3 separate regions of the Homo sapiens genome follow, and all the other regions are linked to region 1. Evidence: fine-mapped QTL for protein levels in blood plasma. A gene starts in region 1. Each other region holds a variant in brackets. All regions are shown on one strand. Distances are from middle to middle. Region 1 holds the start of RSPO1 (R-spondin 1). Region 2 has its middle 4.8 kb from the start of GNL2. Region 3 overlaps RSPO1 (R-spondin 1).

The links. PIP is the chance, under the fine-mapping model, that this variant and not a neighbour inherited with it causes the effect. Protein levels are from antibody-based Olink assays in UK Biobank. Linkage for the fine-mapping came from a reference panel and not from the study's own genotypes, which makes the PIPs less certain.
Region 2: its variant is fine-mapped to the plasma level of the RSPO1 protein (UK Biobank, PIP 0.94).
Region 3: its variant is fine-mapped to the plasma level of the RSPO1 protein (UK Biobank, PIP above 0.99). The variant lies in the coding sequence of RSPO1. If it changes the protein, the assay may bind it differently, which can mimic a change of level.

What each region holds. Positions count from the first base shown.
Region 1 is chr1:37,630,899-37,641,317 of GRCh38, reverse strand. RSPO1 (R-spondin 1) reads left to right here and starts at 6,426. Exons shown (of 7, transcript NM_001242908.2): 1 at 6,426-6,752; 2 at 8,965-9,031. RefSeq lists enhancers at 6,025-6,551, 6,552-7,079, 7,608-8,135, 10,144-10,419.
Region 2 is chr1:37,596,174-37,605,378 of GRCh38, reverse strand. No RefSeq gene overlaps it. Among named protein-coding and RNA genes, the nearest start is that of GNL2, 4.8 kb to the right of the region's middle. RefSeq lists an enhancer at 1,857-2,151. The variant G/A (reference allele first, on the strand shown) is at 8,046.
Region 3 is chr1:37,607,583-37,616,787 of GRCh38, reverse strand. It overlaps RSPO1 (R-spondin 1), which reads left to right. Exons shown (of 7, transcript NM_001242908.2): 4 at 113-304; 5 at 2,455-2,604; 6 at 2,896-3,084; 7 at 3,867-5,438. The coding sequence ends at 4,033. Among named protein-coding and RNA genes, the nearest start is that of GNL2, 16 kb to the right of the region's middle. The variant A/C (reference allele first, on the strand shown) is at 2,943.

The sequences.
Region 1 (10,419 bases):
AAGGCAGAATTTCTTCTTGCTCAGGGGAGTTCAGTCTTTTCCTCTTATGGCCTTCATCTGATTGGTTAAGGCCCACCCACATTATGCAAGGTAATCTGCTTTACTCAAAGTCTACTGATTTCAGTATTAATCCCATTGAAAAAATACTTGCAGAGAAACAAAAAGCATAATGTTTTTTTCCCATGGCCTAGCCAACTTGACACTTACTTTTCTTACTATTGGGCATTGTGCTTTTTAGCTATATTAGTTCATGGTTGACAAGAAAGGCAGATGGCGGGGAATCACCCTGGGTTTGTCCACAGTTAAGGGCTAGGAGGGGAGGTGGACAGATATACAAGGAAACAGGAACCAGGACAGTGGAGAGAAGCATTCCAAGAAGGTGGAGGTGTCAAGAATTGCAGAGGGATAGAGAAGGAGGAAGACAAAGGAACCACAGAATGCGGTGATAAGGAGGTTTTTGGTGACCTTAGCCATGGATCATGCAGGGAGAGTGAGAACTGTGGCAAGGAAGGGGGCTCTTTCACATGGAAGGATTGGGAACTGGAGTCTAGTACAGAAGCATGCAAATAAATGGCTACAAAACGCAAAATAGGGCCAGGCATGGTGGCTCATGCCTGTAATCCCAGTGCCAAGGTGGGATTGGTCTTGAGGCCAGGAGTTCAAGACCAGCCTGAGCAACACAGTAAGACACCATCTTTACAAAAAAAAAAAAATGTAAAATTTTTTTTTTTACATTTTGGGCATTGTGACACGTACCTGTAGTCTCAGCTACTTGGGAGGCTGAGGTGGAAGAATGAGCTATGATTGTGCCGCTGCACTCCAGCCTCAGTAACAGAGTGAGACCCTGTCTCTAAAACCAAAATAAAACCAACAAACAAATACAACATACACTACAACAGAAAGGAAGCTGTGATATGAAATAATGGGGGAGCTACTCAGATGGAGAGGTCAGGGAAGGCCCTTCTAACAGAATAATTTTTAAGTGGAGATTCGAAGGAAGAAAAGAGGCTAGGCACAGTGGCTCACACCTATAATCCCAGCACTTTGGGAGGCCAAGATGAGAGGATTGCTTGAGCCCAGGAGTTCGAGATCAGCCTGGGCAATATAGTGAGACCCCCGCCTCTATTAAAAAAAATTTTTAATCCAAAAAAAAAAAAGGAAGAAAAGAAATGCCCCATATGAAGAGCTATGGGAAGGGCAAGATGGCAGAGAACCTGTGCAAAGGCCCTGAGATGAGAAAGAGTCTGGAATTACCAAAGAACTGAAAGAAGCCTGGTAGGGCTGAAGCCAAGAGAGAGGCGATGTATGAAGCTGGAGGGATGTAGCCTTATAAGGGATGGTGTTTGAATTTGGTTCTAAGTGTGATGGAAAATCACTGGAAGGTTTAAGCAGGGGAGTAAATGATGGGACCTGCTTTATAATTGTTAATTTACTCTGGCTACTGTGTGAAGCCTGTGTTGGTGGGGGACAGAGTGGGAGTGGGGCAACCTGGAAGGGACACTAACAATTGTCCAGGTAAGCGGCAAAATTGGCTTAAAGCAGGAAAGTTTCTGGGGGCAGATCCAACAGAATTTGCCAGTAGAGTGGATGTGGGAGGTGAGAGAGAAGAATGCAAAACAACTCCCAGTTTCTTGCTTTATCAGTTTCATCGCTGTTTCCAAGGAGAAAAACTGGGGAGAAAGAGGTTCTGTGCAGGGCCCAAGAGTTTAGTTTTAGGAGCAGGGAGTTGAAGGGGCCACTCTTGGCCATCTTAGCTGCTTGATGATGGGGGCTGGGACGGAGTGAGAGGCTGGGAGAGGCTGGAAGGGGAAGTCTGCACGGTCATCCGTGGGCTTGCTGAAGCCCCAGTGGAGGCTGGCTGTGGATTTGCAGTGGCACTGTCTCAGGTAGCTGGGGGACTGTCCAGAGGAGCTCAGCAGGAACTGGCAGGGGGTTTGTGGGGCAGTTGAGATGTTGAGGCAAGGCCAGTGCAGAAATCGTTATCGGGCAGGTGAAACGCCAAGAATCTGAATTAGAAGGAAGGGCATGAGAGATTGGGAGCAGAAGGTTAGAGTGGGGGGGTCTGAGGATCTTGAAGCCTATGATTTCAGGGATGGAGTAATTTGGGTGAGGTCAAGAGGGGGTGGCCATGTGAATGGGAGGCCAAAGTGGAGTGGACAAGAGTATCGACCTGGTCCAGGAGGTCCCAGAGGTGTTGGGCGTAGCACTGACATAGAGAACGAGGTCCCCAACGTGATGCTTGAGTCTGCCACAGAGAAGAGGACCTCGAGACAGATGCCAGGGTCCTGTGTGAGCAAAGAAAGCACAGCAGGGCATGGGGGAAATAACTCAGGTGAAGAGAGCAGGGAGGTAGAACAGGAGGAACAGTTACAAAAGGGAGGGCAGGGGGGCGGTGTGGAATGAGGCAGATGCCACACCCTCGTGCAGGAGAATGAGTGGTATTGCCAGACTTTGTTGGGCAAAGGGGATGGCGTCCCTGGTGTGTGTTAAAGGAGCCTGAACTCACTCACAACAAGGTAGAGAATCTGAGAAGTGTGTTTCTGCTGGTATGGGGCTTCCAGAGGACACAGCAGACCCCCTGGGAGGAAAGTGGAGAGAAAGGAACAAGGAAGAGCTGGGCAGTGTTCTTGGGAATGATCTACTTTATTATTGCTCACTGGGGCTCCTCACTCCCTTCAGTCTCGCCTCTTCAAATTCAGCCTTCACCAGAGCTGCAAGACACTCCTAAAGCACAACTCTGGTCCTGCCTTTCTGCCTCATCAACACTCAGGGGCTGCCCTTGCCCTCAAGGTAAAGTTCCTGCTCTTTGGCCTGGTACCATAAGGTCCTTTTGGAAGCACCCCATCTGCTGCCCTCTTCCCCGCCTCACCTCTCTCATCCGAAATCCCCACGAAGCAGAACTACTTATAGCACTAAGGGCACCACGATGCAGCAGGCCTCCGGGCCTTTGCACCTGCCATTCCCTCTGCCTGGAATGCCTTTTGATCACATGTGCCTAGAAAATGCCAATAAATCTTTCAAGCATTTCTTCCCTGGAGAAGCCTTCTCAGATTCCCTCAAGGAGTCACAGTCACCCCTTATTTTGTCCCACCACTCTACCTCATTTACCCTTTCACCAGGCTCTTGAGTCGGCCTTCCTCACTAAACCAGGAGTTCCTTAGGAAGACAGTGTGATACTCATTTCTCTATCCTCCATTTCCAGCCCTGTGCCTGGGATACAATAGTGCTTGGTTGATATCTAATAAAGGCACTGACCAAATTATAGCTAATAAGAAGAGCCAGCATGTACTAAGTACTTACTATAATTCCTAACATTGTGCCAAGCTCTTTAAATGCATTATCTTATGTCATCCCTGTAAGAACTGTGGTGGGTTAATACTGTTACTATATGTATTTAACAGATGAGGAAACTGAGGCTTAGGGAGGTGAAGTGACTTGCCCAAGGACATTAAGCTAGTCAGTGGTAGAGATGGGCTTCAAACTCGGCCGATACTAGTGTCCATGCACTTAGCTGTTATGCTATATTGCCTCAATGAAAGAAAGGATGACAAGATCTAGCCAGGGCAGTGGCTTACGCCTGTAATCCTAACATTCTGGGAGGCTGAGGCAGGCAGATCATTTGAGGTCAGGAGTTCGAGACTAGCCTGACCAACATGGTGAAACCCAGTCTCTACTAAAAATACAAAAAAAATTAGCTGGGCGTGGTGGCGTGCCTGTAATCTCAGCTACTTGGGAGGCTGAGGCAGGAGAATCGCTTGAACCTGGGAGGCTGAGGTTGCAGTGAGCCGAGATCGCATCACTGTACTCCAGCCTGGGCAACCGAGCAAGACTTCTTCTAAAAAATAAAAAAATAAAAAAATAGAAAGAATGAATGAATGAATGAAAGATTTCAGAGAACAGCAGGGTTATGAAGACTAGAGTTTTCAGGGGAGCCTATAAATTGACAGTAACAAAGTCAGCTTTTTCTAGAGTAACAGTAATGATCACAGATGCCAGTAGTTTCCAATCCAAAAGCCCTTCTTCCGTGCGGACAGAGTTCTGCTTTTGTCTGTGAACATCCTCCCAGTTCCTTAGGAACTCACTGCAGTGGAAGAGACCATCATTGGCCAATGATGGGTGGTGTACAGGTCTACACAAGGTTTGGAGGCTGACTTTCGAGGTGGTCAGGCTAAACTTCATACAGGCCTTTTGAAGGATGACACAAAAAGGATTAGAGAAAAAGACATTTCTTTTTTTGAGACGGAGTCTTGCTCTGTTGCCCAGGCTAGAGTGCAGTGGCGTGATCTCGGCTCGCTGCAAGCTCTGCCTCCCGGGTTCATGCCATTCTCCTGCCTCAGCCTCCCCGATAGCTGGGACTACAGGCACCCGCCACCACACCCAGCTAATTTTTTGCAATTTTAGTAGAGACGGGGTTTCACCGTGTTAGCCAGGATGGTCTCGATCTCCTGACCTCGTGATCCGACTGCCTCAGCCTCCCAAAGTGCTGGGATTACAGGCGTGAGCCACTGCGCCTGGCCGAGAAAAAGACATTTCTAAGCAGAATGAACAGCATATGCAAATTTAGAGCAACACAGCTTTCCCAGGGAAACAACTCATTTGGCATAACCTGAACTGGGCTGGCCACTTGCAGGCTGTGTGTCTCTGAGCAATTGACTTGGCGTCTCTGAGGATCAGAATTTACATTTATGGGAAAAAAGGAAAAAAGAAAGGAACTACAATAGTTGCGAAATTAGGTAACAGAATATATGTGCAAAACACAGTGCTTGGCATACATTAGGTGCACAAGAAACATTCTTTCTTATTCACCCATTATTGTCACATGGTTCTAATTCGTTATCTTCTGTCACCCAGGTGGCTTTCTTCCCTTTCTCACTCATTCCTGAGCCTAGTAACGAGGCCCCCCAACTTCCACAGACTTTTCCTCAGGCAGGAAACCCGAGCCCACTGCCTGGCCTAGGACAGCTTCTAGGGCTGTGTGGTTTGTGTTATTTCTTCTCTTTTCTCTCTCTCTCCCTCTTTTTTTTCCTAAATGCAACAAAATAAAACCAAACAAAAAGCCCAATGCCTGGCGTGGCTTGTCAGAGAGTTATGCAAGTGTGTAAAAAAATAAAATAAAATAAACATTGAGTTTTCGGCATTTGGGGCTGTTTGATTAGACACAGAGCATAGCCAAGGGCCGGTTAGACGCAGGGAAGGCTCAGGGCAGAGGTGAGAGAGGAGGGACTTGAGTGGGGGTTGGAGGTTGGAGGGGGCCCCTGGACCAACTCGGAAATGACTGTTTGCCTCCTGCAAACTTGGCAATGCTCTGGCTGAATGAACCCAGACACTGGGCATTTCGGACCCAACTGCTCCACTTTCTCTGGCTATCCACCATCCCTGTTCCCTGGCCATTGGGACACTCTAGGGGTCATTACATCCATCCTCCTGTCATTGTAAACGACCCTGTGCCCTTAACTCAATAGTCAGGGCTCCCCCCTTCTCTCCTAAGAGGGAGATTCCACAGCCTGTCTTGATTACTCACCCCCCCTATACACACACACAATCAGTACATCTTTTCTGCTCTAGCTTAACTCCCACTAACTACAGTTTTAGCCCATTTTCCTTTCCCAATCTGAAGTGAAGCTGGAGAACAGCTGTTTGTCACTCTAAGAAGTGAGTCTCCTTCCCTCCCTTCTTCGGGCTTGACTTCAACATCATCTGGGTCACTGCAGGTGTCTGTAGCCGTTCAAGACTCATTCCACAAACATGTATGGGGTTCCCACCATTAACCAGAAGTTTGTAGCCTTCATTTCATTGAACCCTCAGAACAGATGAAGCCTTGCGATTCAGAGAGGTTCAGTAACCTAGGCATGACCACACAGCTGGTAAGTGATAGAGCCAGACATGAATCTAAGTGTTATTGTATGATCTCCCTCACTCTCACCTACCAGCTGCCTCTGGAGGTGTCCTCACCTCGGTGCCCAGGATCTGATAGCCTTGGTATTTCTTCTGAACTGGGAAGATGCACAGAAGATTTGACCCTGAAGGGGGAGAGGGTGTGGTCAAGACCACCAGGCTCTGTGGAGCCTGTTCCTTGTCACTTTCCAGGTTCCTGATGGGGAAACTGGGGTTTTCATGAGGGTCTCCGGCCGCGTTCTGACGCCAAGATGAGCGGAGTTGTTGCGGGTTCTCTGGCTGCGTGGAATCCCCGGGGCGCGGGGAGGGGCAGGGGACAAAAGCAGAAGGTCTGCCCCAGGGTCCTGGGGACTTGTCCCTCCGCCAGCCCCGCGCTCGGAGCGCAGAGCGCCAGCTTCGGGCAAGGACGTGTGGACTCCCGGGCCGGCGCTCCAGTCCATTTTTTCTTGCGGATCCCTGGAAGGGGGGCCGGCTCGCGGGGGGGACTGCGAAGGGGGGGATTCCCTCCCTGGTGCTCGCAGAGGACTGGCCCCTCTCCGGGCTGGGAGCTCCGGCCGAGCGGAGGCGCGACGGAGAGCACCAGCGCAGGGCAGAGAGCCCGGAGCGACCGGCCAGAGTAGGGCATCCGCTCGGGTGCTGCGGAGAACGAGGGCAGCTCCGAGCCGCCCCGGAGGACCGATGCGCCGGGTGGGGCGCTGGCCCCGAGGGCGTGAGCCGTCCGCAGATTGAGCAACTTGGGAACGGGCGGGCGGAGCGCAGGCGAGCCGGGCGCCCAGGACAGTCCCGCAGCGGGCGGGTGAGCGGGCCGCGCCCTCGCCCCTCCCGGGCCTGCCCCCGTCGCGACTGGCAGCACGAAGGTGAGTCCCCTCGTAGCTGCCCCATCCTTCTCCCCAGCGCCCCCTTCCCCGGGAGCTGGGGCGCGGCGGGCCCTCCCGTCGGGGCTGGTTCTAGCTGGGTGCGTGGGGGGAGACAGAAAGGAAGGGGAGTCTGATCGCTCTCCGGTCGGCGATCAGGACAGGGCACCTCCTGCACCCTTCCTGCAAGTCTGCCGCCCCCGTCGGCCCTCAATCCAGCAGGCAGCCTCTTCCCCTCGAACTCCCCTCCATCCCGCAGCCCCGGGTGATCATCCTCACTCGCAGTCCTGAATTCCCCAAGTCCACCAGCCCTGTTTATACCCCGCCTCCAATCCAGAAGTTCTTGATCCTGGGGCTCATTGGCTCGGATTCCCCCAAGTCCCACGGTCTCTGGTGACCCCCACCCCAGTCCGCAGCCTGGGCCTGGGTTCGACGTGGCAGGCGGCATGCGCTGCGGCCCCCGGTGCGCAGCGAAGTGGCGCGGCTCCCTGGCCCTCGGGGTCTGGCGCTCAGGAACCGATGGTATCGCTTAGTTGGGGAGAGGTGGGGGCTATGTTCGCCCGGGACTCCCTGGAGGGCCGGGACAGACTTGGAGTGAGTGTGCTTGGGGGCAGGAGTTTTCTTGTGAAACTGGCCTCTCAGACGTGGACAGCTCTCTTGGCTCTTGAGGGCCAGCCAGGGGAACCTCAGGTCCGCGTCTCCCTCGGCACCTGTTGGGGCCTCTGCGGGATGGTGGGGGAGGGAAGAAGAATGTGCGCGCTTGCGGGGGTGATGGAGGGGTGAAGAAGCCATCCTCCGCTGCCCTTGCTTTTGGAGGGGGGGCACGGCCCCAGCACCTGGCTTGGCTCCGACAGACAGGCTAATCCCGACAGGTCGGACAGGCACATACTTTGTCCCGCCCCCCGCCCGCAATTCTTCTGCCCCCGCCTGCCAGCCTGCTGGGCGGCCAAAACTCTCCAGCCTGTAGCCCGGCCCGGGGAGGGCTAATGCGAAATTATCTAGATAGTTTACATTTTTGGGTCTGTATCGGGCCCCTGATGGAGTACCACTTTATTCTGACGGTATTGCAGGCAAGAAGGTGAAAGTGATTCCAGCCCCCTCCCGGGGCTGAGTTTCTGCCCTCAGCTCCACCTCCAGCTGTGTCCCCCTCCCCGACCTGTATACTCCCCTCCGAGGCCCTTGTGGCCTCTCGCTTTGGTCTCCCTTCTCAGCTCTGCCTCTGCCACCAGCCCCGTCCCCACTTTGCAGGTCCACTCCCCAAGCTGGGTTGTGCCCCACACTCAGCAGCTCCCAGCGGGTTGCCCCGCCCTCCCCACACCCAGTCCTGGGTAGCAAACCTGAGGGCAGGTCCCTAACTGGGTCTGTAACCCCTGGGACACTTAACCATTCAGGGCCAGGTCTCTTCCCCTGTAAAATGGAAATAATTCTACCTTCCTCCTTCCATTGTGAGGAGTAAACGAAGACCTGGCACATGGCAGGTGGAGGGAGGCATCTAACAAGTGTGAATCCCTCACCCCCACAGTGGCAGAGAGAAATGCCCTTTCTTACCCCCACCAATAACCTGAGGCACTGCCAGCAGTCCCCATTCTATCTGTGTAGAGTGAGCCTCAAAAACATAAACTGCCAGTGCCATATAGCCCATGGCTCAAAGGAAATCAGACAGAGGACTCTAAAAGAAATGAAGCAGCCTGCTTAAAAGGGAGTCATCAGCTCATATCTCCTCTCTCAGCCCTAGCCCATGCTGTCCATGTCTGCAAGAGTGCATGCCTGTGTGTGCGCATATGGGGTCAGGGACTAGATGCAGGAATGTGGAGCCACTGAGGCAGGGACCTGTGGCCCTCTGAGGCTTGGTGCTGCAGGGTTCCTAGTCCGAGACCTGTCCAGCATTTCAAATCAGATTTCATGTAAGATCCTGGATTTTCCACTCCTCTTTTAGAAAATCAGAAGATCTTTCAACAATCAGTCAGAGCTGAACGGCATATGCTCCCTTTAGATGGGGCATTTACCCTCCAGTTTACCCCCTCCACATCCAGCTTCAATCATATATGTCATTTGTACCCCCTGGTATAGAGGAACTCTTAGCCCCTTTACAGGGTTGATTCTATATGTACATTTTCAAAAAGTGCTTGCAACTCTTCCCATCCCAGAGGTGGGGGAGGCCAGTGTCACTTGCTTCAGTGAAATTTACATCTGGATCCTCCTTACGATTTTCCAGCTGAGATTGTGGTTTCCTGGTGATTCAGGTGGGAGTGGGCCAGAAGATCACCGCTGGCAAGGACTGGGTGAGTGTGGCAGGGGTCAGCTGAAAACTAGGACCTGGGAGGATTGAGAAGGAATTTAGAGGGAGAGGAGAGGGAGGAAAAAGAAGGGAGCTAACATTTGCCGAGCACTCACCCTCAATTGCCAGGCACCATGACAGGTTGGCACAAGGAATGCAGAGATGCATAGGGGACATTTTGTGCCCCAAAAAACCCCAGGGATATTGATCACGCAGTGAGTCCAAAGTCTTTCAGATCCAGGGTTAACACCAAGTTTGTCTAATGCAGTGTTTGTCAACTGTAAGGACTCATGGAACAGATCTACCAGGGATTCTCAGACCTTAGTTTGAGAAATGCTGCAATTAAAGGCAAATCCTATCACTCTGAGTGATCGCTTTGGTGTCGAGGCAATCAACCATAAAGATAAATGCAAATATGGAAATTGCATAACAGTACTCAGTATTAAGGTTAGTATCCAGATGATACAGAACATGTTCATATTGCCTTTTGAATGATTATTAGAATGTAGACACAAAGTGAAGCTTTGGTCATAACAAATACAGCAAATATTATTGAGTCATCACTGTGTGCCAGCACCATTCTAAGCAGTTTTGTGTATTAACTCATTTAAGTTATAAACAACAATAACCTTCATGCAGATAAGAAAACAGGCTCAGACCAGCTAAGCAAGGTAACATAGCTAATAAGTAGCAGAACCAATATTCAAATCCAGGCAGTCTGACTCTGAAGTTTATGCCCGTGACTATCATGCTGTACAGCCAGCCTCTGAGACTACAGACTTGGGCCAGAAGACCCCAGTTTGATAAACTCAACTGGACATCTATAATCTGTGGGTGAGAGAATTGTGTAGTGGGGGCTGGGGAGGATAGAAAGGCTTTGGTAAATCAGGCAGGGAGTACTGGAGGGGCGTGCAGGGGTTGGCAGCTGACGGGCATTTGGGGGTAGCTGGGGGCATCTCCTCTGGCTCAGGCCACAGCACCAGGTGGGATCCATCAGCCTCATGTAAACACTTCTCACAGGCAGCTTAACCACTTGAGTGTGTCTGGCCTTCAAAGCCAGCGGGAGAGGCCAAGGAGGGAGGTACTGAACTCCCTTAGGGGATAATGATTTATCTCCCGTGCAGGTGGGCTCTGCTGGGGCCTCCCTGACAGGCGAGGGGGTGGACTGGCACTGAAGAGCCTAGAGGGGAAAGGATTAGGACAGGGGGTGGGAGGGGCACCTCCACTCCAGCACCTCAGATTTCTCATTCCTGAGCCTGAACTCTCTGACTCTCAGCTAGCCTGTGACATAGTCATGCTTGTCCCCATTTTATAGATGTGAAACAGGTTCAGTGAGGCTACATGACTTGTTCGAAGGCATCTAGCCACTGGAGGGGAAGGTGATGGCTCCCT
Region 2 (9,205 bases), 35 kb after region 1:
TTGGACAGAAAAGTCTGATAAAAAGCTGCCTGTTCCAGGTTGAGATACACATAACCCGTCTGGCTCAGACTTCGGATATGCCCCAGGGGCTTGCAGACTCTGGCAACAATTGCCTTGAATATATACTTGGCCTTTCTCCCAAGGGCAGGACCATTGCTGATAGACTGTGCTTGATTTCTCTCATGCCCGCACATTCATTCTCACAAGGTATTTTACTGTACGAGGTATTTGCCTACCACACATAGTTACAATTCTTTTCCCACCACCAAACCAACAAAACGTCCACAGACATTGCACCTCAATTTTTCACAAACACATTTTCATCGCATTCCCATGGTTTACCCTTCTGTTTCCCTCTTTTTTTCTCCCACTTTTTTCAAACCTGTTTCACCCTTCTGATCCTCCTGATCTCTCTCCATGCTGGCTGACTGGCTTCTCTGCTCTCCCAGACGGCCTGTAGCACCCCATCGGTCACTCTCCTTTCTCTTCCTTTTTTTTGCTTTCCTTTGGCTGTGTAGCCACAGGTTCTTCACAGCCATGGCTTGCCCAGTCCATATTTTTCCTGTATATTTGACCAATTGCATTTGTCTTTTGGTATCACAAGCTAGATGTTTGTTGATTGAATGAATGAAGTGGTCCCTCTTGGATGGGTATGTTCTTATATTAGCCCTGGAGATGATAATTATTGATGGTGCTTACTCATTTTTCCTTCTAGGAGGCAAAATGAGGCCAGCATCAAAGTTCAGTGGAGCACCAGGCCAAAAGCAATGCAATCTCGATCTTTCTGTCATTTGGCCACAACTGTTGATGACGACCCAGATTTCCAGGCCCATCTCCTGCCACCCCCATCCCCTGCCCCATCTACTCTTCTACTCAGAATTACTCACTGTGCCCAATACAAATACACATTCAAGTTCCCATGCCTTCGTCTATGCTGTTCCCTCCACCTAAAATGTGTTTCTCCCTGCTTTCATCTGTAGACCTTCTACTCATATTTCATACCTAGATGGAATTACCCTTCCTCTGTGAAGGAGGCCCCTCCCCAGTAGCTGCTCCTCCTGTATGTTTCTATGGACTATTTCACCTTTATGACATCCATGTCTGTGTCCCATAGCCTAAGGTTAGCTCCTGAGAGCAGAGACTGTGGGATGTATTATTGCATTCCTGTTCTTTCCCAAGTCTCTTGAGGCTGTGGGTACAGTTGGAAATACTCTCATAGTGCTTACACTATGCGCATACACATAATGCTTACAGTACTACACATCGACACAGTGCTTACACTATTCTAAGCCTTTTACTTGCATTGCTTCATTTAACCCTCAACACAGCCCTGTGAGGTGGATACCATTATTAGGCCGATTTTACAGATGAGGAAACTGAGACACAAAGAGGTAAAAGGATGTGACCAAGGACACACAGCTAATAAATAAATGAGGTCAGAATTGGACCGCAGGTAGTCTGGCTCAGCTACCACTTAGCTATTTGAAAACCTGCATTTTCCATGTGCTTTTCCATACCTTAGTACCATGATATGCAGCCTGGTGAGTGTCTCATTTATTGGCAGGAGGGGATTCTGAGGGTTGGATCATATGTGCTTACAAATAACGCTATAGGGCCTGCAAGGACATCCATCCACCCCTGCCTTGCCTCTTGAGCCCCTCATCAGCATGCATTGCTCACAAAGCTACTCAAGACCACCTGCCAGTGTGTGCCCCCATGCCCCACTGCAGGGGCTGCCTCCAACACAGTTGAAGCTGCCCACCCTGGGTGTAGCCCCTAGAGACCACGGTGCACCAGAACCATGCCGGGCAAGTGGACCATCTCCTCTACTTTCTGTTGTGCTTTGCTTCAAGGTCACCAAAGTTGCTTTCACAAAGACTGCGGACAAAGGAGCCCTTTGGATTTCTGCCTGAAGCTCCCTTCTCCTTTGGCCTCAGGAAAAAAAAAAAAAAAGTCCTGGAGCTCAGTTAGGGGACTGACAGGTCAGTGCTGCTCCCCTGAGACTTGCTTTTGCCCTCTAGCACCGGCTCTCTCTCCGTGAATTTTAAACCTCTGCAGAGAGCCCCCTGCTGGTCTATGAAAGCATCAGCTACATCAGGTGAGGAGTGGACCCTCGTTTGAATCCCCAGGGCAGAAAAAATGAAATATACCTCTATAGTGGGATGGGCAATGTTCACTCTCAGAGAGCAATGGCAAATAAATAGTCATTGAATGGTCAATTCCCTGTCTCTTCAATGATCAGAACACATACCAGTGCCCTAGCACAGGGGGTTGTAGGCAAGTGTTTTCTGTAAAGGGCCAGGTAGTAAATATTTTAGGCTTCACAGGCCATATGTGGTCTGTCGTGGCTACTCATCTCTGCCTTTGTAGTGCAAAATCAGCCATAGACCATATGTAAACAAATAGTGTGGCTGTGAACCAATAAAACTTTATTTATGAACCCAGAAGTTTGAATTTCATATAATTTTCACATGTTACAAAATACTATTCTTATTTTGAATTTGGTCGGTCATTTAATAACATAAAGACCATTCTTAGCTTTTGGGCCACATAAAAACAGCAACTGGTGGGATTTGGCCTGTGGGCTGTAATTTGCCTACCCCTGCACTCAGAGATAAGCTACTTGGTTTGGTTCATGCCTTTTCTTGACGTAGGAGAGTGGGGAGGACACAGCAAAACCTGAGTCCCCAGGTCCTGGGCACAGTGACTGGGCATCTTGGGGATTTCCCTAGCTCTAGCTAGAAGCAAAACTGACAACTTTAAAGTCTCTCAGATAGACTTTTAAAGCATCTAGAAGGGGCTAGGTGCAGTGGTTCATGCCTGTAATCCCAGCACTTTGGGAAGCTGAGGTAGGTGGATCATTTGAGGTCAGGAGTTTGAGACCAGCTTGGCCAACATGGTGAAACCCTGTCACTACGGAAAATACAAAAATCAGCTGGGCATGGTGACAGGCACCTGTAATCCCAGCTACTCAGGAGGCTGAGGCAGGAGAATTGCTTGAACCTGGGAGGCAGAGGTTGCAGTGAGCCAAGATCGCATTACTGTGCTCCAGCCTGGATGACAGAGTGAGACTCCGTCTCAAAACAAACAAACAAACAAATGACAACAACAAAAAACCATCTGGCAGGGCGTGGTGGCTCATGCCTGTAATCCCAGCACTTTGGGAGGCCGAGGTGGGCAGATCACGAGGTCAGGAGATCGAGACCATCCTGGCTAACATGGTGAAACCCCGTCTCTACTAAAAATACAAAAAATTAGCCAGGCGTAGTGGCGGGCGCCTGTAGTCCCAGCTACTCGGGAGGCTGAGGCAGGAGAATGGCGTGAACCCGGGAGGCCGAGGTTGCAGTGAGCCGAGATTGTGCCACTGCACTGCAGCCTGGGTGACAGAGCCAGACTCTGTCTCAAAACAAAACAAAACAAAACAAAACAAAAACATCTAGAAGATTCCTCCAAACTGGGTTAAAAAGTGAGTAGGAAGGATTGCTTTTCCCAAAGATGAGGGAGTGATAGACTTATCTTTTTCTAACTGGGGCTCTAAAAAAGGAAACATAGCTAAAGGTTTTGACTAGTTCTTCCTCTGCTGCTTGAGAAGATATTCACCCTGACTTTCTTCCATACCTTTGCCTGAATCTCTATTTTAGAAATAAGATTTTGTTCCTAGTCTAGACAGAAGAGCAAGAGGGATGGAGGAGGTCAAGGAAAATCTCAGTGTCTTGCTGGGCAGAGGATGCCCTTAGGGCAAGACTGAACTTCTGACAGACAGAGCTCCACTGATCTGTTGGTTTTAGATGGGAAGTTAACTTTTCAGATTCTTTAACATGACATTATTCTACTGGAAACAAACCAAGGGACCTGGATAAAGTTTTTAAAAAGTGTTTTCTTAAAGAAAAAGGAGGGAGGTAGGCAGGAGAGAAGGGAGTAAAGAATTACACAAAGATTTGGTCTAACGGCTTCAAAATCAAAAGGATCCCTGGACAGATAGATATTGAGTGTAATAGGAAACACACTGATCCTGGGGAGATGACTTAATATAGGCCCTCCAGCCTCCTCAGAGCTTAAACAATTACCTACAATTTGGAATTATACTTTAAATTCCCACATCAATGTGTGTTCTGGATCCACTTCTCAGGACACGGCCAGCAGTCTTGAGTTATCTAAACCATGCTGAAAATTAGAGGCCATTAATAGCATCTCATAAAAGTGCTTCTCAGATTTTCTTGAGCAGAATATGCCGAAGACCACAAGGGATTTGGTGATAGGAAGGAGCGAAATGCTTCTAGTTATTTTTCCAAAGCTTAATCTGGGGATCTTTTTGAAGAGCTCCTACCCAGCAGTGAGATGCATGCCAAGACTAATACGACTGTTTTTCCCACTTAGAAGTGGTGACCATGAAGAAAAGTTTCTTGGGGTTCCCAGAGGTGAGTCTCCTAGCCATTTTTACAGGTAGCAAGCCCACTAGTTTGCTATATCCTTGTCCAAGAATTTCCCAGACACCCTAGACTGAAAACTGAGGGTAACTTGGCCTATGAAGCTCTAAGTTAATACACTTTTCTTTTCTTTTCCTTTTTTTTTTTTTTTTTTTTTTTTTGTGGCAGGGTCTCACTGTGTCGCCCAGGCTGGAGTGCACTGGTGTAAATCTTGACTCACTGCAACCTCTGCCTCTCAAGCTCAAGCAATTCTTGTGCCTCAGCCTCCCTAGTAGCTGGGTTTACAGGCGTGTGCCACCACGCCCGGTTAATTTTTGTATTTTTAGTAGAGATGGGGTTTCACCATGTTGGCCAGGCCGATCTTGAACTCCTGACCTCAGATGATCTGCCTGCCTTGGCCTCCCAAAGTGCTGAGATTACAGGCATGAGCCACCACGCCCGGCCGAACTTTACTTTTCTGATACTTGAATTTGCTTGTAAAACTGTTGAGGTTGTATAACCAAGGACTCACTTTTTTGTTTTCTATCAGTGAAACAAAACAACAAAATCCTGAAGATGTATATTCTGAGCCTTTCTCTGTTCTTCCAGAGTCCCAGAACCTAGCATTTGGGGACTAGGACTGTTTCACATTGGGCAGCGGCCATTCCAGGGGCCCAACTCTTGGCCTCAGCAGGCACGGGTCAATGCTTCATGGGCTTGCCAGAGGAGAGACACAAGAGGCCCCAAAAGAGCAGCTTCTGCTAGCAGTTCAACTGGGAAGTACAACTCAACAAGCCGGCACTAATTAAGAGCTAATGGCCTTACAAATGAGCATTGCCAAAGGATAACGACCCTCCGGCTGCAGCATAAATATCAAGGCATTTGGGGCAGAGCCAAGATATATATTTTCAGAGTGCATTAGACACTGCAGCAGCCTTCCTCACCCTGGCTCTGCTAAGAAGAACAAGATGATTTAAGATAGGTAGGAAAGAAGCTTGATCTTCCAGGGCTGCCTTCTGGTCAGCAGGTCAGAAAGCCTCCGAGTGACTCTTGGAAAAGACTTCACTTTTGTATATACAAGAATCACTTGAGGAGCTTGCTAAAATGTAGATTCTCTTGGCCCCACCCCCAAGATGGTCTGATTTTGGAAGCTCTGGGATAAAACCCAGAAATCTGCATTTTTGTTTTATTTTATTTTATTTTTGAGACAGGATCTCACTCTGTCACCCAGGCTGGAGTGCAGTGGCACGATCTCACTGCAGGCTCCACTTCCCAGGCTCAAGAGATTCTCCAGCTTCAGCCTCCCAAGTACCTGGGACTACAGGTTTGAGCCACCACGCCTGGCTAATTTTTGTATGTTTTGTAGAAACAAAGTTTTACCATGTCACCCAGGCTGATCTCGAACTCCTGCGCTCAAGCGATCCACCTGCCTCTGCTTCCCAAAGTGCTGGGATTCCAGGCATGAGCCACCATGCCCAGCATTTTAAAACAGATCCCCCAAGTGATTCTGATGCTTGTGGTTCTCAGACCACACTTTAAAAAATGTTGCTTTAGAAGCTGCTGCTATTTGCCCATTAGACCCCAGTGATAAACTTTTTACAGAATGAAGATAAAAGTGAGGTCAGGGCCCGGCACACTGGCTCATGCCTATAATCCCAGCACTTTGGGAGACTGAGGCAAGTGGATCACCTGAGGTCATGAGTTCAAGACCAGCCTGGCCAACATGGCGAAACCCCATCTCTACTGAAAATACAACAATTAGCTGGGTGTCCTGGTGGGTGCCTGCAATCCCAGCTACTCGGGAGGCTGAGGCAGGAGAATTGCTTGAACTGATGAGGCAGAGGTTGCAGTGAGCTGAGATCGTGCCATTGCACTCCAGCCTGGGTGACAGAGCAAGACTCTATCTGAAAAAAAAAAAAAAAAAAAAAAAAGTAAGGTCAGGATTGTCTGCTTCCTGTGAAGACACCAGTCCAGAACATGGCATTTCCAGCCAGTCTCCATCCATTAAGGTCTTCTCATTCACACAAACCTGTGGTTACCAGGAGCAACATTTGAGGGGATGAGTAGCTCACCTTGGATTTTGAGAAAAATAGAAAGCATCCCTGGCCGGTGCAGTGGCTCATGCCTGTAATCCCAGCACTTTGGGAGACCGAGGCGGGAAGATCTCGAGGTCAGGAAATTGAGACCAGCCTGGCCAACATGGCGAAACCCCGTCTCTACTAAAAACACAAAAATTAGCTGGGCATGGTGGTGCGTGCCTGTAATCCCAGCTACTTGGGAGGCTGAGGCATGAGAATAGCTTGAATCTAGGAGGCAGAGTTTGCAGTGAGCTGAGATCATGCCACTGCACTCCAGCCTGGTGAAAGGGCAAGACTCCATCTCAAAAAAAAAAAAAAAAAAAAGAAGAAAAATAGAAAGCATCCCATCTGCATGATGTGTACCATGTCTGCGATGCTTTCATATACTGTAACTCATATGATCTTATTGCAGTCTTTCAGAGTAGTTAAGCTATTGCATCTGTTTTAAAGCTGAGGAACTGTAGACCTGGAGGTGTATCTTGCCTCTGCTAGTTGGCATGACATCAGAAAAGAGAGTGAAAAATAGTCACTGCATTACAATGCGGCAAGCAGGGCAGGCAAATCAAACCAGTAACTTAAGCTTGACTTACCTTGATCAGGCTTTTTATCTGCTGGTAGAATTGAAGTTGGTTGTCGAGATCGGCAAATATTGTTGTAAAAGGATTGATGGGTCAGATTATAAAAATAGATGGAAAGTTTGTAAGATAAATGCAAGCAGAGTATGAGAACAGGAGAGAAACAACCCACCATATCATCTGGGAAAATGAAACTCCTTGGCAAGACTTCACAACAGCCTGATTCAAAATTTCATAATGAAATTATGTCTCTGATCAAAGCCTGAATGAGCTCATAGGCTGATTTTTGCCATCCGTGTTTATTCTGGTTTGCACCAACTTGAGGCATCAGAAACACATTAACTGAATCTTCTCTCTGGGAGGAGGCTATGGTATCCTTGTTTTGGGGATCAGAGGGACAGTGTGGGGTGGAAGGGGGCATCTTCACTGATCATGAAGTTTTTTCCAAATAGCTCTCAGAGCTTCCCTAACACAGGTCACAGTCAGGGCCTTCCCAGCAGAGCTGCATTTAATCTCATGATACTTGCCCTTGGGGCAATAAAAGCGAAGCTTGAGGGACAGAAGGTATTTCCAGCTCTAGCCTATGACATGGCCTGCTTTTGCTCTAAAGAGAATGTTTTGGGGTTTGTTTCAAACTCAGAGAAATAAAGACTCAATCATCCCCTGCTCAATTAGAATACCTCACTTTATAACAAATTGTTTGTTTTTATGAAATGAGCTACACTGCATGAATCCACCCTTCCTCTTGCCTAACCATCTCTTCTTTGGCCTATCCAGAGGGTACAAAGATGGCCATTTTCTGACAATTTGAGGTACCAAAAAAGAGAGAGGGACCAGGCGAGGTGGCTCACACTTGTAATCCCAGCACTTTGGGAGGCTGAGGCAGGTGGATCACCTGAGGTCAGGAGTTTGAGACCAGCCTGGCCAATGTGGTGAAAGCCCGTCTCTACTAAAAATACAAAAATTAGCTGGGCATGATACCATGC[G/A]CCTGTAATCTCAGCTACTTGGGAGGCTGAGGCAGGAGAATTGCTTGAACCCGGGAGGTGGAGGTTGCAGTGAACCGAGACCGGGCCACTGCACTCCAGCCTGGGCAACAAGAGCGAGACTCCGTCTCAAAAAACAAAAACAAAAACAAACAAACAAAAAATAAATTGTAAAAAGAGAGAGGGCTTCTTGGTTCAAACACTGGCATCTAGACACTTTATTCTGGCTAGTAGAAACAGAAATCACTGGGTCTTAATGCCTTCCTTCATCCTCAAGGCAAGAGACATTCCCATCTACTCATTCTTTCACTTAATGAATATTTTTTGAGTCCTTTGTTTCAGATGCTATTCAAGTCTTAAAGACACAGCAGTGAACAAATTAACAAGGTCCCTGCTTTTAAGAATCTTACATTCTAGTTTGGGGGAAGCAGCCAATAAACTTGTAAAAAAAATTCAACTAGTGATAAATGCCATGAAATAAATAAAACAGAATACTGTAACAGAATAACTGTGAAAGGGTGAAAGGTGGCTGATTTAGACAAATTAGACAGGAATGAGTTCTCACAGCAGGAAGGGTCACCAGATAAAATACAGAACGTACAGTTACATTTGAATTTCAGGCAAACGATGAATACTTTTTTAGTCTAAGTATTTTCCAGGCACTGTTGGAGGTGTACTAAAGAAAAGTATTCATTTTTTTTCTCTGAAATTCTAATTTAATTTGGTGTCCTGTATTTCTATTTGCTAATTCTTGCAGGCCTACCAATAGGTGATATTTGAGCTTAGGATTGAATGACAGCTATGCAAAGATTCTGGGAAAGAGTGATTCAGGCAGAGAGAATATCCAGTGTAAATGTCAGAATAACCAGAGGGAGGGACGTACACATGAGATTAGATAAATAGGCAGGCAGGGGCCAGATCACAGAATCCTGTAGGGATGGCAAAAAGTTTGAATCAATCTCTGTCTCTGTCTGTTTCTCCCTTCTCCCTTCCCCTACCTCTCATTCTAAGAGTGATGATAAGCCACTGGAGTTGTAAGGAAGAGAATGACACCTCCTAACGGATATTTGGCTGCTGTGTGGTCGGCAACTTTTGGAAGGACTTAGAAGACAAATTCAGAAGACAAACTTAAGCTTGTGCCACTGGCCTGGGAAGAAGCTTCT
Region 3 (9,205 bases), 24 kb after region 1:
TATTCCTTCTGTGGAAGGAAACATCGATCTATTCACTTCCCATCCTTGTCAGAATCTGGATAGGTGAGGTTCTCTCCACAGCCGCCTTCTCATGCCTGCTCCACCTTTGCAGTCAGTGCCGAGGGGAGCCAGGCCTGTGCCAAAGGCTGTGAGCTCTGCTCTGAAGTCAACGGCTGCCTCAAGTGCTCACCCAAGCTGTTCATCCTGCTGGAGAGGAACGACATCCGCCAGGTGGGCGTCTGCTTGCCGTCCTGCCCACCTGGATACTTCGACGCCCGCAACCCCGACATGAACAAGTGCATCAGTGAGTGTGGGCAGGGCTGTCGGGGGCAGGGGGCATTAGAAGCTCTGGACTGGGGGAGAGTGCTTTGAACCATTGGTGGCTGGCAAGAGGAGCAGAGGGGGCTCTGAGGAGAGGAGATGAGGCTCCGATTCAAGTATCCAGCCGCACACTTCCACCTTGGTGTGTAAATATCAGAACCCTGTCTCCTCCCTTCGCACCTGCCCCTACCTGTATTCCCAGAGGTCACCCTCCATGTCCCAACCTGTCACCCAAGCCACAGCCCTGAGTGCCAACCTCTCCCACCCCATCCATCCAATCACCAAAGCCTGCCTGTCATCTCCTGTATGTCCACACTGCCACTGTCCTCCCCAGGCTCCCAGCACCTTGCTCCGGGATCATTGCAATAGCCTGTTCATCTGTCCTCCAGCCTTCATCTGGTTCCCTGAAACCCATCTTCTGCACTTCAGCCAGAAAGACGCTTCTGAGACACACACCCTACCCCATCACACTTCTGAGACACACAACCTATCTCATCACACTTCTGAGACACAGAACCTATCCCTATCCCATCACATTTCTGAGACATACAACCTATCCCATCACACTTCTGCTTAAAAACCACTGCTAGCTCCACATGGGCTGCAGGGGAATCCAAGCCCAGGCAGCCTGCTCTTCCACTCTCTTCTCTCCCTGGTCTTCTGACTCCTCATTTCCACAACAGCTACAGCTCCACATGCTCCAAGGCACACGCTACCATATCTCCATCCCTTCTCTGTAGATGCAGCTGTGATGTGCTGGGGGACACGTGTGAACACACTCGGGGGACAATGCCAGTGCCCCCACCACTTGTTCAGTGCCTTGCCATTTAGAATGCATTTGCAGGTCTCATATCAGTTGAGCCTCACAACAACACTGGGAGGGAGACAGGACACAATTGATGGTGCCCTTTTCAGGGCTGACAACATTCAGGCCCGGAGGGTAAATGACTGGTCCAAGACTAGACTGGACCAGTCCAGCTCAGAGTTGGTTCTGAGCTCAACTCTGCTACTTCTTCATTGTGTGACCTTGAGCACATCTCAACCCCTCAATGCCTCATCTTTGTTTTTACCCCCTAGGGTTGTTGTGAGACATGCATGTAAAGCCCTTAGTGTCTGGCACTCAATGAATGGTAGCTGCTATTGTTCTTATTTTTGTTCTTATTTGACTGGCAACCAAACCCAGGAATCAGAGCACCAGGGAGGGAAGGAAGGAGGGAAGGAGAGAGGTGAGGCTGAGATAAGCCTGGAGGATGGTGGGAGTTTGTGAGGACAGAGGTGGGACCCTGGGAGCTACCCTCTTGGTCCTCATGGTCCTTAAAGTCGGGAGCTCCTGGCTACACCAGCTCCTAGGAAACTGGCAGCATGGGCTTCAGGTGGCAGAGCCTGGGAGGAAGTCAGCCCCGCCTGCACTCTGGGAAGGAGAGATTGTGAAAGACCCTGCCTGCTTCCAGCCAAGCCCTGGAAGACCCACCCTGCCCCCATTCCCCCAGAGGAGAGAACTGGCAGCAGGGAATCAGGGAGGGACCCAGGAGTCCTACCAAGGTTGTTGCTGGAACTCAGCCTTGCAGAGGCAGAGGCATTTGCCCTGGGATGGCTTACCCCTCCTCCATGCTGATTCTTTCTGCCAGGCAGGAGGAGAACCACAGTTTGGGACATTGCAGATGCCCAGCAATGAGGGAAGAAGAGATCATGCAGCCACTCTCTGGGGGGCCATTCTGTCCCTCAGTTCAACTCTGTTTAGGGTGGCCCTCTGGATGCTGTGAGATGCTGAAACTCTCCTGTCCCACCCCCACCAGGCCCAGACGGCCCCACCCTCCGCCTCTGAAACTGCTCTCTTGAGCCTCACCTTGGGCTGCAGGGACTGAGACTGGGTTCATGATCGAGTTGGCTGATGGTGGCAAGAGTCCCAGCCAGCCTTCAGGAGCAACCGCTTCAGCTTCTTCTTCCCTGGCCTGCCACTGCCCTTCCTTTCCCTTTCCTCCCAAGATTCCTCTGCAGTACCTGCAGCTCTAGGCCAGGGTCCTGCCCTCCATGTAGGTGGGTGTGGACAGAAGGGAGGGTATTGGGGCTGGGGATGAGGGGAAACATTCTCACCAGGCTGGGCCAGAAGCCCCCAATCTGTCCTCTCCTCAGAATGCAAGATCGAGCACTGTGAGGCCTGCTTCAGCCATAACTTCTGCACCAAGTGTAAGGAGGGCTTGTACCTGCACAAGGGCCGCTGCTATCCAGCTTGTCCCGAGGGCTCCTCAGCTGCCAATGGCACCATGGAGTGCAGTAGTCCTGGTAAGCCATGGCAGGCACTGTGGGCAGAGGGTCCAGGACCCCAGAAGGAGGGGCCGGGTAAGGGTCTGGCAAGAGAGCGGGTGGGCTGGGGCACTGTGCAGGGAGAGCTTACCCTACCACTCCTTTCTGAGTCTCCAAGGACTTTTCTGCCCTCTGGACTAAAGATACCTGCAGCCTCAGGTCCAGGCAGAAGGAAAGTGGGAGATGCTCCCCTGGGCTATTCTGGGCCAGAGGAGGAGACATGATCCCCTCCTCCTTGTCCTTCTCTCCCTTCCCTTCTCTTCCTGCCAGCGCAATGTGAAATGAGCGAGTGGTCTCCGTGGGGGCCCTGCTCCAAG[A/C]AGCAGCAGCTCTGTGGTTTCCGGAGGGGCTCCGAGGAGCGGACACGCAGGGTGCTACATGCCCCTGTGGGGGACCATGCTGCCTGCTCTGACACCAAGGAGACCCGGAGGTGCACAGTGAGGAGAGTGCCGTGTCCTGAGGGTGAGCTGCAGCCTCTGCCTCCCTGGGGTCAGGGCTCAGGCACCAGCCATGACAGGTCCTGCCACCTCTGCTTCCTGCCCACGGCTCAGGAAGAAGCTTCAGGGCAAGGCCAGATGGGGCACCCGCAACTCAAGACCTCATGCTGTCCAATCCAGATGCCATGTCCTGGCAGAGAACAGGGCCTCAGAACTCTGCATAGTGGAAGCTGGAAGCTTCTGTGGTCAACATCCTTCCGGTTCCCCCATTTCTTCTGAGCTAGTGGATGTTCATACTAGAAGGCCCCTCGGAGGCAGGATGGGTGGGTGAAAAGGGGCACTAAGACCCAGAGGGGTGTAGTGATTCCACCAAAGTCACACAGCCTGCAGTTGGCAAGGGGTTGGCTGCTGCTCTTGCCTGGCCCCAGAGGTGGCTGGTGGCGGATAGGGGATGGGGGCAGTCCTGCCTGTTCTGAGAGTTGCACTGAATACCTGGGAAGTGCTCTTGGTCCATTGGGATCCAAGGTCTGAGGAATCCATGAGGAAGAGGATGATGTCTTGTGTGCCTTGAGGGTTGGGGAGTGAAAGGGCTCTTGGGCTGCCTCCCAGTACTCAAGCCTCGGGGTCCTCTGAAGTGGCTGCTGTCAGAGGAGGTCACGATGACCCAACTACCTAGAGGCAGCATCTCCAGCCTCCTCCCTGCCTCCCCTTCCGGCTTCCTCACACTCCCCTCCTAGGGCCTGTGGCCATGCCCAGGGCCTCCCTGCACATCCTTTGTTGATTCTTCCTGCTGTTTGGTTGTTTCAGGGCAGAAGAGGAGGAAGGGAGGCCAGGGCCGGCGGGAGAATGCCAACAGGAACCTGGCCAGGAAGGAGAGCAAGGAGGCGGGTGCTGGCTCTCGAAGACGCAAGGGGCAGCAACAGCAGCAGCAGCAAGGGACAGTGGGGCCACTCACATCTGCAGGGCCTGCCTAGGGACACTGTCCAGCCTCCAGGCCCATGCAGAAAGAGTTCAGTGCTACTCTGCGTGATTCAAGCTTTCCTGAACTGGAACGTCGGGGGCAAAGCATACACACACACTCCAATCCATCCATGCATACATAGACACAAGACACACACGCTCAAACCCCTGTCCACATATACAACCATACATACTTGCACATGTGTGTTCATGTACACACGCAGACACAGACACCACACACACACATACACACACACACACACACACACCTGAGGCCACCAGAAGACACTTCCATCCCTCGGGCCCAGCAGTACACACTTGGTTTCCAGAGCTCCCAGTGGACATGTCAGAGACAACACTTCCCAGCATCTGAGACCAAACTGCAGAGGGGAGCCTTCTGGAGAAGCTGCTGGGATCGGACCAGCCACTGTGGCAGATGGGAGCCAAGCTTGAGGACTGCTGGTGACCTGGGAAGAAACCTTCTTCCCATCCTGTTCAGCACTCCCAGCTGTGTGACTTTATCGTTGGAGAGTATTGTTACCCTTCCAGGATACATATCAGGGTTAACCTGACTTTGAAAACTGCTTAAAGGTTTATTTCAAATTAAAACAAAAAAATCAACGACAGCAGTAGACACAGGCACCACATTCCTTTGCAGGGTGTGAGGGTTTGGCGAGGTATGCGTAGGAGCAAGAAGGGACAGGGAATTTCAAGAGACCCCAAATAGCCTGCTCAGTAGAGGGTCATGCAGACAAGGAAGAAAACTTAGGGGCTGCTCTGACGGTGGTAAACAGGCTGTCTATATCCTTGTTACTCAGAGCATGGCCCGGCAGCAGTGTTGTCACAGGGCAGCTTGTTAGGAATGAGAATCTCAGGTCTCATTCCAGACCTGGTGAGCCAGAGTCTAAATTTTAAGATTCCTGATGATTGGCATGTTACCCAAATTTGAGAAGTGCTGCTGTAATTCCCCTTAAAGGACGGGAGAAAGGGCCCCGGCCATCTTGCAGCAGGAGGGATTCTGGTCAGCTATAAAGGAGGACTTTCCATCTGGGAGAGGCAGAATCTATATACTGAAGGGCTAGTGGCACTGCCAGGGGAAGGGAGTGCGTAGGCTTCCAGTGATGGTTGGGGACAATCCTGCCCAAAGGCAGGGCAGTGGATGGAATAACTCCTTGTGGCATTCTGAAGTGTGTGCCAGGCTCTGGACTAGGTGCTAGGTTTCCAGGGAGGAGCCAAACACGGGCCTTGCTCTTGTGGAGCTTAGAGGTTGGTGGGGAAGAAAATAGGCATGCACCAAGGAATTGTACAAACACATATATAACTACAAAAGGATGGTGCCAAGGGCAGGTGACCACTGGCATCTATGCTTAGCTATGAAAGTGAATAAAGCAGAATAAAAATAAAATACTTTCTCTCAGGGAGGTGTCTCAGAGGATGTGATATTTGAGCCTAACTCTGAAGGATGGGTAGAAGGATTTAAGACAGACTGCTGCTGTCCAGTAGAAATATGTGAGCCACATATTTAATTTAACATTTTTGGGCCGGGCGCGGTGGCTCATGCCTGTAACCCTAGCACTTTGGGAGGCTGAGGTGGGCAGATCACGAGGTCAGGAGTTCAAGACCAGCCTGACCAACGTGGTGAAACCCCGTCTCTACTAAAAATACAAAAATTAGCCGGGTGTGGTGGTGTGCACCTGTAATCCCAGCTACTCGGAGGCTGAGGCAGGAGAATCACTTGAACCCGGGAGGTGGAGGCTGCAGTGAGCCGAGATCACACCACTGCACTCCAGCCTGGGCAAAAGAGTGAGACTGTCTCAAAAAAAAAAAAAAAAAAAAAAATGCCAGGCAGGGTGGCTCACGCCTGTAATCCCAACACTTTGGGAGGCAAAGACAGGAGGATCACTTGAGCCCAGGAGTTTGAGACCAGCCTGGTGTGCAAAACAAAATTAAGTAATAAAAAAAGAAAATGTTTTTCTAGTAGCCACAGTATAAAAAGGAATGAGGTGAAATTAATTTTAATTACATCTGTTATTTAACCATATATATGCAAAGTATTATCTTTTTTTTTTCCTCATAGAGATGAGGTCTCACTATGCTGCCCAGTCTGGTCTTGAACCCCTAGGCTGAAGCGATCCTCTTGCCTCGGCTTCCCAAAGTGCTGGGATTATAGGCATGAGCCACTGCATCTGGCCCCAAAGTATTATCTTTTTAACATGCAATCAAGGTAAAAAATTATTAGTGAGATCTTTTACTTTTTTAAAACTAAGTGTTCAATGTTCCATGTGTATTTTTACACTCACAGCATATCTTAATTTGGATGCTAAATTTTCAGCAGAAATACCTGATCTGTAATTACATGGCATAAAAACTAAAGTTGAAAAAGAAGATACACATACCCAAGTTGTTTTGAGAATACTTACCAGTTTTTCTGTAACTGAATGATGTATGTTTTTAAATTTTAAATTTAGCCAATTAAAATTAAATAACATTAGCAATTCAGTTCTTCAGTTGCACTAGCCATATTTCAAGTGCTCAATAACCACATGTGGTGAGCGGCTACCATGTTGGACAGCACAGTTCTACAGACATGCATATGCAATTGTCCTGTGACAGAAAATAGTTTGGCCAAGGAACTGAAAGAAAGCCAGTATAGCTGGAAGGTCTCGAGGGCAAATGAGTTCAGATGATTCTAGAAAGATTGCCTGGAGTTGGCCCTTTATTCTCAGAGCCAAAGGAGGCTACTGAAGGGTTTTAAGCAGTAGGCCAAAACAAGCAGATTTGCATTTTGCAAAGATCATTTTGTCTGTAGCTTGAAAGACAGATTAGGGAGGGGTTGCTTAGGAGGCTGTTGCTGTCATCTAGGTGAGAGATGTTGGAGATTTGAACTAGGGTGGTGGCAGTGGAAATGGAGAGAAGTGAGCAAAATCAAAAGGTATTTGGGGCATAAAGTTGACAGAATTTGGTGATGCATTGGATGTGGAAGAGGGGAGAGACGGGGAGGAGTTATCAAGGATGAAATCTCTTTTTCTGACTCAAACACCCAGACAGATGACAGTGCTGTGTTCTGAGGTGGGAAACCTGCGAGGAAGACCAGTTTGGGAGAAGAAGGAAGAACATAAATCTGCTTTCGACCACGTTGAGTTTGTAGTACCTCTGAGACATCCTGGTAAAGATGGTGAGCAGACATTGCTTAGACATAAACACAAGTTTAGTTGTACAGGCGGAGTTTGGGATGGAATGTAAACTGGTGTACAGAAGGCAATTGAGGCTGTGGGTTTGGAAGAGCTCAACTGAAAAGACAGCACTGGTTGAAGAGAGGAGTCTGGGCCCAGCTCTAATATAAAGTCCCTCTAAATATAAAGATCAGATCACAAACGGTGAGTTAAAGAAGGAGCAGGCAAGAGGAAACCCAGGGGAATATCAGGTCCCAGAAGCTAGCAAGAAGGAGGGAGAGATCAAGCAAAAGAGGACTGGAAAGTGACCATTGGACTCAGCAACGTGTGCCAACAGAAGCTTAGCAGCAGTGTTTGGGGAGGGTGATGGAAACAGACAATTCCTTAGCTGTGAAAAAGAGGAAGAGAAATAGGACAGGAGCTAGAAAGAAATATGAGTCAAGAGAGACCTTTTTTCTTTAGATGGGAAAGACTTGATGGTATTTAAAACCTTCTGGGAGGGGTGCACTTAAGAGAAAGCAGTTGAGTACACAGGCAAGAGAAGGGGAAATCAGTAGTGGAAGGTTCCATGGGGAGGGATGGCTCTGCAAGAGCAAGGAGAGAGTGATGCAGGTGCGGGAAGCCTGGGAGGTGAGGAAGGTGGGGGATTTCATGTCTGTGCACCTGCAGGTCTTGTCCCGTCTACACCTGTGATCTTCACTGCCAGTCACAGACCGCCCACAGCCAGCTCCAGCCCCTCTTCACTCACTCTTTACCTTGTCTCCTCTCCTTGACCCTGGCTGTGTTTTTGCAAGTCTCTCTGTGCCATCCATCTTCCATCTCTGTGTTCCCTCTGCCTTTGCCCCTCTCTGCGTCTCTAACTCTGTCTTCTCGGTCCCTCTTTTTGTCACCCTGACCTTCTCTGTTCCCACTTCAGCCTCTGACTCTATTTTTGTGCACCATTGATTCTCTTTGTCCTTCTGTTTCTCACTTTGGGGCATCAATCCTCAGTCCCAGTATGTCTTGGCTGTCTTTGTCTCTGATTTGTCCCTGACCCTTAGGCTCTTGCTCCTCAAAGTGTGGCCATGGACCAGCGATCTTGGCCTCATCTGGAAGCTGCTAAAAATACAGAATCTCTGGCCTTACCCAGACCTAAAGAATCTGATTCTGCCTTGTAAGAAGATCCCTTAGTAAATTTGTGCAGATATTTAACAATTTGAGAAGCACTGTCATAAGCTTTCCTCTACACCAACATCAAAGCAGAAATCCAGAATCTTAGCAACATCAAAGAATGAGCTGGATCCTCCTGTATCTCCTGCCATCAACTCTGTGATGCTCTGAGCCATCCCGCTTCTCTGCATCGCATCTTTGAGCCACCTAAAGCTGCTCTTGAGGCCCTAGGCAGCTAAGATAAGGAACACAGTATGGGTTTCAGGAAGTCCTGAATCCACTGATGTACACCCCACACTTGAGCTTCTACATCTGCAGAATTACTGGCAAGATCATCTGATACTGATACACTGGGTGCTTTCAGATGCGATCCCAGTACATTCCTAAAAAACAATTAGCCCCACCTGGACCTACTCCTGTCTCACTCTGTCCTGTCTTTAGCTGGAGAGGGGTGTGTGTTTCAAAACCTGCTCACAACCCTAGAAGCAGCCCACCTGAGGCAGAGACCATAAGGGCTGAGAGCAGCCCAGAGTTGGTCCAGACATCACACCTTGTGCTTTTTAGGATGACTGAGTGCTGGAGAGAGGGAATCTATGTCAAGATATGGAGCTGCCTAACCCTATTCCCAGGTTTAGGCAACAACAGCACATGATTGTATGTAGTTGTTACGTGCCCACATTGTTATTTGGAAAATGTTAGCTTTTTCCTCTACGGGGCCACAGATTTGCCCAGACTAACACATTTCTGGCCACCGTACACAGTTCCAGCTCTGGTATGTTTCAGATCAAATCTCCAGAGTGTAGATTTGTTTTCCATTTCAATATTTTGGGTGATGGGGTTGTGTTTTCCGGATTTGTTTACTTA